Homo sapiens: one gene and its partners. The protein of the gene in region 3 purifies or fractionates together with the protein of the main gene of each other region. This does not show direct contact. Each region holds a gene or a part of one and is shown on either strand. Other genes may lie near its edges.

Evidence for each region.
Region 1: the proteins of SLC16A9 (region 3) and MRS2 purify together in Homo sapiens (affinity purification with mass spectrometry; one large-scale study listed by BioGRID and IntAct). This does not show direct contact.
Region 2: the proteins of SLC16A9 (region 3) and CHCHD3 purify together in Homo sapiens (affinity purification with mass spectrometry; one large-scale study listed by BioGRID and IntAct). This does not show direct contact.

Annotation. Positions count from the first base shown.
Region 1 is NC_000006.12:24,416,418-24,420,073, reverse strand, and holds part of MRS2 (magnesium transporter MRS2 homolog, mitochondrial isoform b precursor), read right to left. Parts: coding exon 3,561-3,656; intron 1,991-3,560; coding exon 1,838-1,990; intron 1,614-1,837; coding exon 1,496-1,613; intron 1-1,495. UniProt on the Homo sapiens protein: Magnesium transporter that mediates the influx of magnesium into the mitochondrial matrix and regulates magnesium metabolism. Also permeable to calcium, sodium and potassium ions.
Region 2 is NC_000007.14:133,072,008-133,075,663, forward strand, and holds part of CHCHD3 (MICOS complex subunit MIC19), read right to left. Parts: intron 1-3,656. UniProt on the Homo sapiens protein: Component of the MICOS complex, a large protein complex of the mitochondrial inner membrane that plays crucial roles in the maintenance of crista junctions, inner membrane architecture, and formation of contact sites to the outer membrane.
Region 3 is NC_000010.11:59,654,351-59,658,006, forward strand, and holds part of SLC16A9 (monocarboxylate transporter 9), read right to left. Parts: intron 240-3,656; coding exon 1-239.

The DNA of each region.
Region 1 (3,656 bases), on a different chromosome or scaffold from region 3:
GAATAGTTGTATGCAGAAGGGTGTCATAATACTTACATCTTATAAAGACCACTTTTTAAAAGGGCATAGTGGTCCTAATGGGAGGTGATGTGGGCAACAGAGTAGACTCGTTAGACTAATGAGGACACAGAATCCAGCATCACACTGTGCCAGATGCACATCCAGGTTCAGTTCTAGAAAACTTACAATAAGCTATTCTGTGAAAACACAGTCAGTGGGTTCTGTATCTGCAGATATGCAAGGTTGACTGTACTGGGTCATTTTATATCAGAGACTTGAATACCCACAGACTTTGGTATCTGTGGGGATCCTGTAACCAATTCTTCTTGGATACTGAGGGATGACTGTACAAAACCACAGTGAAATGAAAAACTCTGGGAGTTAAGTATTATCTTAATACAGAAAGGCAACAGAGCAGTAGAAAGTGCAAGTCTTTGGGGTCATGTCCTAATTCTGTTATTTTTCCAGCTCTATGCCTGTGGGCAAGTTAAATGTTCTGAGCCTCAGTCTTCTCATCTACAAAGTAGGGATAATATATCTATTTTCAGAGTTGCAATGATTGAGCCAAATAAAGTATGCAAACCGCCTGGTACGTTGCCAGACATGTAAGAATTAAAAAATAAAAACTCTTCATTAACACTGCTTCACAGAGACACTGTTTTATCACACCTTTCCCATCTGTAATTATATGTTTTGGGAAACAAAGTAACCTAGGCTGTATTTATCTAGGTTATAACATGGTCCAACAGTACTGCCTGAATTGTGAGTTACATTATATATTTTATTTCACCATGGTAGTTTACAGGTTAGACTTTTTATTTATTTATTTTTTGAGACAGAGTCTCACTCTGTCCTGTCGCCCAGGCTGGAGTGCAGTGGTGTGATCCTGGCTCACTGCAAGCTCCGCCTCCCAGGTTCATGCCATTCTCCTGCCTCAGCCTCCGGAGTAGCTGGGACTACAGGCGTCTGCCACCACGCCCGGCTAATTTTTTGTATTTTTAGTAGAGACAGGGTTTCACCGGGTTAGCCAGGATGGCCTCGATCTCCTGACCTCGTGATCTACCTGCCTCAGCCTCCCAAAGTGCTGGGATTACAGGCGTTGAGCCAAGGTGCCCAGCCTTTATTTTTTAAATCCATTAAAAATATCGATCTTCAAAACCCAATCTTTTTTTTTGGAGACAGAGTCTCACTCTGTCTCCCAGGCTGGAGTGCAACGGCGCGATCTCAGCTCACTGCAACCTCCGCCTCCCGGGTTCAAGTGATTCTCCTGCCTCAGCCTCCCAAGTAGCTGGGATTACAGGTGCCTGCCACCGTGCCTGTCTAATTTTTGTATTTTTAGTAGAGACAGGGTTTCGCCATGTTGGCCAGGTTGGTCTCAAACTCCTGACCTCAGGTGATCCACCTGCCTCAGCCTCCTAAAGTGCTAGGATTACTGACATGAGCCACCATGCCCGGCCAAAACCCCCAAGTTTTAGAAATAATAATACATTCTCACCTCTTCAAGGGAAGATTCCAAATTCATTCCAAAAGCAACTCCCATTAGTCCAAAGAGCGAAAGAGAGAAGGTTCCCATGGTCAGCTGTAGATTCAACCTCATCATCACGTTTCGGTGGCTGGAGAGGAGAACACCTATTCAGATTAGAAGGGCCCACTAACTATATACAGCACATTCATCAAATCTATACAGACCACATGGATGAAACCTACACAACAAAAAAAATAATAATAATGTAGTATAGATGATAATGATGGCGTAATTCCTCACAAAATATTTCCTTAAAAACTTTCTTATAATTATTTTATTAAAAAAACTTAGTTTTATATAATGCTTTCTTACCTGTCCAGATTAATGAAAATAATACTTTGTGAATCATCAATCAGCACCCTAAGCTCACGAGCTGCATTGGAGAGATCGTCAGCCAATCGGTAGTAGTTTTCCAACAGCAACTCCATCTCTTCTGCATGGTCAATCCCAGCACTGCTCTTTTCACTTCAATTAAAAGAGAAAATAATTAACATACTCCCAACATGTGTATCATATACTTAGTGACAAAAACTTCCTAAATTAGTATATAGCATTCAGCTACCAGTGGAAAAGCTAGCCTTTGTCTTGTCTTGTCTTTTTTTTTTTTTGAGATGGAGTTTCACTCTGCTCCCAGGCTGGAGTGTAGTGGCGCGATCTCGGCTCACTGCAACCTCTGCCTCCCAGGTTCAAGCTGTTCTCCTGCTTCAGCCTCCCCAGTAGCTGGGACTACAGGTGCCCGCCACCACGCCCAGCTAATTTTTGTATTTTTAGTAGAGATGGGGTTTCACCATATTGGACAGGCTGGTCTCGAACTCCTGACCTTGTGATCTGCCTGCCTCGGCTTCCCAAAGTGCTGGGATTACAGGCATGAGCCACAGCGCCTGGCTGCCTTTGTCTTTTCTATTGTTGTGGCCAATCTGTGAGTACCTATGTCAACTGATCCAAAACACTTTACAGATGAGTTGAGGACAGAGGTTCCATCCTTATGTAGACCAGTTGGTGTCACTGTATTACATGGCCCCAATCCAAGAGATTTTTATGCAGATACATGCTGCCAGTTACAGGAAAATCCAGATATGTGAATGCAGATGAATTAGTGCAAAGCCAATACCACTATCAGGTAAAACAAAATCCACAACTAAAAATGTCAAGACCATTTCCTTTTGAGGTGTGTACATAATGTGATTTCATATAAAGAAAATGTTTTTGAATGATATCAGTAATAACTTTGCTCCCCTACCCTACCAAGAAGGGTAAGGGGGAATGAAGTACTCTGAAGAGGTACCTGTATCATAAAGCATATTAGAGACAGATTGACAGATTGGCCTAAGCAAAGCAAACAGTTTCTGCTACCATACCTATCGGCTATCTACCAAATGTTATATAGCCCCCTTTATCTTATTATTTCCTTATCAGGATATAAATAACCAATTTTTCAAAGTGCTGTAAGAAAATCTGTACAGACTGTGGAAACTAAACTCATTACAAAGGTGTATTAATTTCTGATACTGCTCTAGAAAGACAATAACAAAATATTTGGGTATTTAAAAGTAAACATTTAGCTGGAGTGTGCACAAGAAGCATAAACAATTTCTAAATTCATAAAAGATAAAAGGTTTATAAGATTAACATTTTCATTAGACTGAACTTACATAATCCATGTTAATGTGTTACTCGTGTATTTACCCCATCTTTTCCCTCCCCCATGTAAATTTCTCTCCCACTCTGCTTCCTAGGTAAGTTATTTTGGTAGATGTATATGCCAATCTGGTGGTCAGTCCCTTGAATATAAAGGTAACTGTGTGTTTATATTCACCACATGTCAGCAGTGTTGGGTATGCAGTATGCATACTCATAGAATTACATTGAATTAGATACGATACTGCACAGGAAAAAAGGGAAACTGGGGATGAAAAATCTCTATATTCTGTAGTCCAGAAAAATGTTACATTCTGTATGAAAAATCACCTTGAAGTGGAAAAGGCAAAAGATTTACTCTAAGGAAATAAATAACAAAGTATAATTATATACTTACAAGACTTGTGGGTCACTCCATTTTGATACACAGAGCTCTTCTAGCAACTCTTCCTCATCCAAGATCTCCAAAATTGACTCTTTGAAAATTTTAATA
Region 2 (3,656 bases), on a different chromosome or scaffold from region 3:
ATTGTAGTGATGTTTGCACAACTCAGTAAATTCATCAAGTGTTGAATTGCTACTCGGGAGGCTGAGGAGGGAGGATCACTTGAGCCCAGGAGGTCAAGGCTGCAATGAGCCATGATCATGCCACTGTGCTCCAGCTTGGGCAACAGAGCAAGACCCTATCTAGAAAAAAAAAAAAAAAGTGTTGGAATGTAAACTTAAAATGGATGAATTTCATGGCATGTAAATTACTCTACAACAATTTACTTTAATAAACTTTAAAAAAAAAAAGCTATTATGGTAATCCAGGGGAGAACACACTTAAAAGGTATTTAGGATTTAAAATACTAACATTCACTGAGTGCTTATTATGTGCCAGGCGCTACACTAAGCTAGGCACTTCACTTATTTACTCCTTCACAGGCCTATGAGATAGATACTTTTGTATCTCTATTTTATAGGTGAAAAAACTGAAGCATAGCCGGATTAAATAACTGGCCCTGGATCAGATACTTTATCAGTAGCAGAGGAAGGATTCAAACCCAAAAAGTCTGAGTCTCAAGATCCCACTCAAGGCCAGGCATGGTGGCTCGCATCTGTAATCCCTGCACTTTAGGAGGCCGAGGTGGGCGGATCACGAGGTCAGGAGATCGAGACCATCCTGGCTAACATGGTGAAACCCCATCTCTACTAAAAATACAAAAAATTAGCTGGGCGTGGTGGCGGGCGCCTGTAGTCCCAGCTACTCAGGAGGCTGAGGCAGGAGAATGGCGTGAACCCGGGAGGCAGAGCTTGCAGTGAGATCGCGCCACAGCCTGGGCAACAGAGTGAGACTCCGTCTCAAAAAAAAAAAAAAAAGATCCCACTCAAACATCCCTCAGCATCACTACCCAGTATCTGAGTAGATGTGGGAGTAAAGCAGAAGTCATCAAGGAAGACCCCAGGATTTCCATTTCAAGTAACTGAGTGATCCTCCTCCTGTATCAAGGGTCTCCTTCCCATTTCCACTTCCTGAACTCACCACTCTCTGGCTTTTACCCTCAGTGCAACAGTGAACATTCTCTGGTAGAAGTCACCAATGACCAAATAAATAACTTTTGATATTTATGTAAATAAATATTTTATATTTATAAAATGCCTTATTTATATGGCTTCCCTTTAGCATCTAACACCTCTGGCCACTCCCGTCTTCTGGAAAGCCCTCCCTTGGCTTTTCTGACATCCTGCTGTCCTGGTTCTCCTAGGACTCTGGCCACATTTTATCTCTTTTGCAGCTTCCCCTCTCCTGCCTGCACTTCAATGCTGAAGGGCCCTTCTCATTCTATGTGCCCTTGTACTGGCACTCTCATCCAATCTCTTGATTTCTAACTGTTGTTGATAAACTAATAAATTCCATTAATAAATGCATTCACTCGAGCTTAAGACCTATCTCTCAGAAGCCCGGTCTCCACACTGAAGTGCCTAATGAACACCTTCCTTCTGGCAAACCAGAAGCACCTCACACCCAAAGTGTCCAAAATTGATCTCACGTTTGCCGCATATCTCCTCTTTCTCCTGCCTTCCTTACCTCATTAATGACACCACCAACACCCAGCTTCCTAAATTCAAACATAGGGCTTGTTCTTAACTCTTCTTTCTCTCTCATTCTTAGCTCTGACTTCATCAATCCCTAAATATTTAATGAATTCCTCTCTTCTCTCATCCCATTTCTCCTGCCCTAATTCCTGTACCATCCGCTTAAAATGCAAATGTGATAATGGTAACTCCCTACTTCAAATTCTTCAATAGCTACTGTCTGTTTACAGAAAAATTCAAATTCTTTGTACAGCATTCAAGACTTCATCATTTGGTGATGGCCTAACTCTCCAACCTCAAATTCTACAGTTTTTTTCCTTAATATTACATATCCTGTTCTACGTCCATCTCCTTGCCTTTACACACGCCTACATTGCCCTCTCTCCTGTACCATTGGGAGGGAGTCACCTTTCAAGACGCAGTCTAAACATCCAAGCCTTCACTGACCAAAACAGTTGTCCACTCCATTCCAACCCTGCCTACCTAAAGCTACCATTCCTTGTGCCTGCTGTTCCTTTCTCAAACTTCCAATACAGTCTCAATGAAAGAACAGGAATTAGCCTTTCCACATTCACCTTTCTGCCTTTCCACTAGATTGCAAGCTCCTATATATTAAGTCATTCATTCAACAAATGTCTCCCAGGCCAGGCACTAATCAAGGCCCTGTGATACATCAGTGAACTAAATAGTCTATACCTCAACTGTTACTTGTATCTCAGGGCCCAAACCAGAATGGAAATAAGATGGAAAAGGGAAAGGCTACAGATCAAATGCTGTGTGTGCTCTTTGAAGGAAAAAACTACGACTCCCTTCTTGGAAGACAAGAAGACTTTCTATTTGAAAATGCCAGAGCCAGCTGCATCCTTCTAACAACTGACAGCCACTGGGAATGTTGCTGAAACCCATCTGAGAAACTGAGAAACTGAGACACATCCTAGAAAAATCCCCGTAAGACTGACTCAATTTATACTTGAGAAAAAAAAGAGACCCTGAGTAATATTCAGTTACTGGCAGCATCAAGACCAGAAGCAGTAATTCCCCAATCTCTAGTCCAATGCTCTACTTTTAATAACACACCCCTTCAATCCCATGCATGTAATAAAAATATCACTTCCTCTTAAAGAGGAAAAAATAAGCTTACATTTTTAGAATCTTAAAGCTATTTTAACTGATATATAATATATATAAATCTCAAAAATCAAGTGTTAGCTATAAGCTTTCATCTGAAAAGTTACTATTTTCATCTGAAAAAAATGAAAATAATGTTTACCCCAGAGATTCTGTGGAGGGATTTTAGTGTTTTGCACCATAAACTACAATTGGCTACACAAATATTTGGTAAAGCTATTACCCATATAGCTCCAACCACAGGGACTTTTTAATTCATTTTGGTTCATTTTTATCAACTGGGTCTGAGCTTGTACTGACTCGTTCTCTGTAAGGTGCATGAGGACCAGGCCTGCAGCTATTGCAAGCAGCAGCTGCCTAAGTCCTGGTATGGGTATAGAAGGTGCTTATTTTTCTCTATCTATGCTCTCTAGGTAGTAGGAGTAGAATGTCTCTTTCAACCTAATCACTAATTTCTTGTTAACTTTTTTTTCTTTTTGAGGCCTCTCTGATGTCCCAAGTTGCTACTTAATGTCAAATTCTCACATCAATTCAAAACATTTCCCAGTGGGATGTTTGGTTATAGTTCAGTAAACTTGTAAGCATGCACCAAAGGAGTATATACTAAACCTATTGAAGGCTTGATAAACATATTGTACGGCTGCCTTATTGAGACTCCACCTTTCTCTTGTTCTTACAATCATTCAACAACTGTATCCTTAGGCCCTTCCAAAGCAGCACCCATGGCCATCTACTGTTGCACCTCTGCCAACTCCAAGCACTATTACCCTATTCCCAGTCTGCTCATAGCGACGTAGATATGAGGTAATAGTTTTGTTGTGTTATCATCTGTATCCAAAGTTAATGCTCTCTGAGCTGACCTTCCCATTGCAGTAGTAAGTTCAGACCTGCACACTCACCTGATCTCCTCTGTGAACAGGGGTACTCACTCGTGAAGCAGCTGACAAGCTTTAGAGATGCTGGCCAGGATTATACAC
Region 3 (3,656 bases):
TATGTTTTCTTCCAGATTCTTTCCTTTTTCATTGTAAATGGAGTATTTATCTGGTAGATCTTCTGGAGCTATTTTTTTAGGCAAAGGACAATCAGAAGATTGGAGGGGTCTCATCAGACTGCCACAGGCTAATATATTTAAAGCTAAAGCACCCACAATCAGCAAGCATCCATCCAGTCCATAGAACTCAACCAGCATCCTCTGCAGAGCAGCATATATGAAAAGGCCAACGCTTGAACCTAAAAAGGGAATGGGAACTGTTCAACCTCGTAATCTGAGGCTCTCAGGATTAGAATTTGTAATATCACAATTCAATTTATTTTTTATACTGGCATTTATATGTAACTTCATATTAAAATCATATTAAGAAGATAGAAGATAACAATAATAACAATAATATAGTAATACTGATAGAACATTTAAGAATTAGAATTTGCAGCTCAGACACTGTTAAGCACTTTACATTGCACGATCATGTTTAATGCTTTTACTGATCCCATTGAGTAGGTCCTATTATTATTCCCAATCTAGAGATGAAGTGACCTAGGGCTGGAATGGTTGAGAAATTTGCCATAGATCAAAAATCTGTAAAGAACATAAATAGGATTCACACTCAGTCAGTTTGAACCCAATAGCCCATATTCTTAACAAGTATCATCGGCTGGGTGTGGTGGCTCAGGCCTGTAATCCCAGCACTTTGGGAGGCTGAGGTGGGTGGATCACGAGGTCAGGAGTTCGAGACCATCCTGGCCAACATGGTGAAACCCCGTCTCTACTAAAAATACAAAAATTAGCTGGGCATGGTGACACACGCCTGTAGTCCCAGCTACTTGGGAGGCTGAGGCAGAAGAGTCGCTTGAACCCAGGAGGTAGAGGTTGCAGTGAGCCAAGATTGCACCACTGCACTCCAGCCTGGTGACAGAGTGAGACTCCGTCTCAAACAAGCAAACAAACAAACAAAAAAACCCAAAAACCAAGTATCATCATGAAACTATTTTCTTTGCACTTATTATGTGCCAGGCTCCATGCTACATATTTATTCCAGAAAAGTAAATTTTCATATTTTACTTTTTAAAAATAGTATATTGCAGTTTAAGGATATTTATAATGGCTTGATAGTTCAAATCCATTGCTGAATCACCGGAATGAGTGAGTCATCCTTTTCATGCATTAATACAATTATGAGAAAAGTAGAATTTTTTTAGGGTATTTAAATTACAAAGTATGCTGGTTTATACATCTATGTAACACTGTGAATAATTCACCTTTTTAGCACTGATCACACTAAACACAGAGGGTTGCCAAGTTATGGTAGCCTAATCAATTGGTACTGTTCTCATCTGGTTCTGATTTCAATCTTTAATAAACTGAGCATTTTTAAATGTAAATGTCATTGGGAAATGTCATGTGAAAAATCAGGAAAAAAATAGTCTGAAAAGGTTGATCATATGTTTAAAATGGTCAGTATTAAATTACATTATAATCTCATCAGGATGCCAATAGGACCAAGCTCAGAGGCATCACTGATTGCATGGATATGATTGCTATAAAAACCCATCTAATAAAACAATTCTTCCAAATAGCCAAATGGCTCTGCCTTAGAGTTGTAAGAAAATATTTTCTTTGGGACCTCAGTTGTCCCTTCTTAACATTTTTTAAAGTTAACCCCTTCATTCCCAAAAGGAAAAAAAACTTTGCATGCAAATATTAATGTTTCATGTTAATGTAATGGCAACTAAAATAGTATCTTTTGGGACTGCTAAGAGAGTATCTCTTTGCTAACTACTGAGAAGTAATAACAGTAGACAAATGTAACCCTTTCCTTCTCTCATTAAACGTGGCATATACTGTAAAAGTTAAAAACGCTACAGAAAACACACTGACAGAATTAAAAACAGCAGGGTGACCTCATGTACTGCATTAGTACCCATTAACTATAAATTTGTGATTTTTGCCTATTTCTTTGTACAGATTCTAACAAAGTGTCACATCATTAGATACTTAAAAATGCTCTTGGTGTTTTGAAAGTTCTATATTTTCACACAGAACAAATAAATAAACAACTTTCCTATTCTTGCCAACCAAGTTTATCTGTCAACATGATGAAAATCAATTCAACAGATATTTATTGAACACATAAGATAGCAGAGAATGGGGAATATCAAATTACACATTGGAGGCTAGTTTCCTCAGCCTTCATCCCACAAGAACATGTCTGTGGTTTAGAAAGATACAGGATTTTTTTCCCCCAGGGTATTGAAAAGTAATTTAGAGTTTCCTGGTGGAATTTTGTAAACTGCAAAACTGTGATTGTTAAAAATTTTAAGTTCCAGGATACATGTGCAGGACGTGCAGTTTTGTTACATAGGTAAATATAGCCATGGTGGTTTGCTGCACCTATCAACCCATTACCTAGGAATTAAGCCCTGCGTGCAATAGCTAAAACTGTAATTTTTAATCTTCAAAAAGAGCATCCTAATTTTAAAATAATCATTGTAAAGGGTTAAGTGAAATAAAGCACTAATTATGCTTCCATGCATGTTATACATTATTACAAAGAGAGAAAATATTAAATGGCGTTCAGGGAACACGAAGCAGTGAGAAATACAGCCATGCTTTAACTCATTAATACTAGGGGTCAATAACTTCCCGAAAGGATCAGAGAGTAAATATTTAAGGCATAGAGGGTGTACAATCTCTGTCCCAAATACTCAACTCTGCCCTTGAAGCATGAAACCAGCTAGAGATAATCCATAAAAAAATGAGCATGGCTGTGTTATAATAAAATTTTATTTATGCACGCTGAAATGTAAATTGCACATAATTTTCACGTATTATGAATATTCTTCTTTTGATTTTTTTCATTCATTTAAAAATGTAAAAACCAATTGTAGCTTGTTAATCATACACAAACCAGCAGTAGGCCAGATTTGGCCCATAGGCATTTGTGGACCAACCCCTGTTCACTACAGAGGAAGATCGCTTCCCCCAAACCTTCATTTCATGCCCACATTCCTTTCTTTCAACTAGGTCACAATATTTCAAGTGTTTTGATGCGGGGTTTCTTTTTAATTTTTAAAAAACTCTGCTGTGACTTTTGTTTAGCTTATCATATCTTTGACTGAAGGTGGGTTCATACTTCTCCCTAATTTCCCTTCACCTAGCTCCCTGTGAGTTGAAACTGAAAACTCCTTTAAATCTTGACTGCCCATAGTTGCTTCATTTTTTATTTAGTGTGCTATGGACCAGGCCCCTATGCCCTCCTCTCAAGACTGAGTGAAAAGCAAGATCATCTGTCACAGCATGCAACTCCCAACACCTTCAACACAAATACATTTGGACATTAGGGAAACCTAGGTCAGAATTATAACTGCTAACACTTGAGAGCCCCTGTCATGTGCCTTACACATACATCCCTTTCATATGTCCAATAACCCAATGTGATGGGTACTATTTGTAAATCAAAAATAAAATTCTAAGCCACCCAGCCAGCTGATGGACCCTCCCCTTGGCCAAGGGTATTCTGAAGTAAACCTGAAAAACTAGTTCAGGCCGTGATAAGGTCAGGGGGATGGGGGCTGGATATGCCTCATTATACTCTCCCCTCTTTGGAATTCAAACACAGCTGACCAGTATTAACATTAAAACAGGCACCT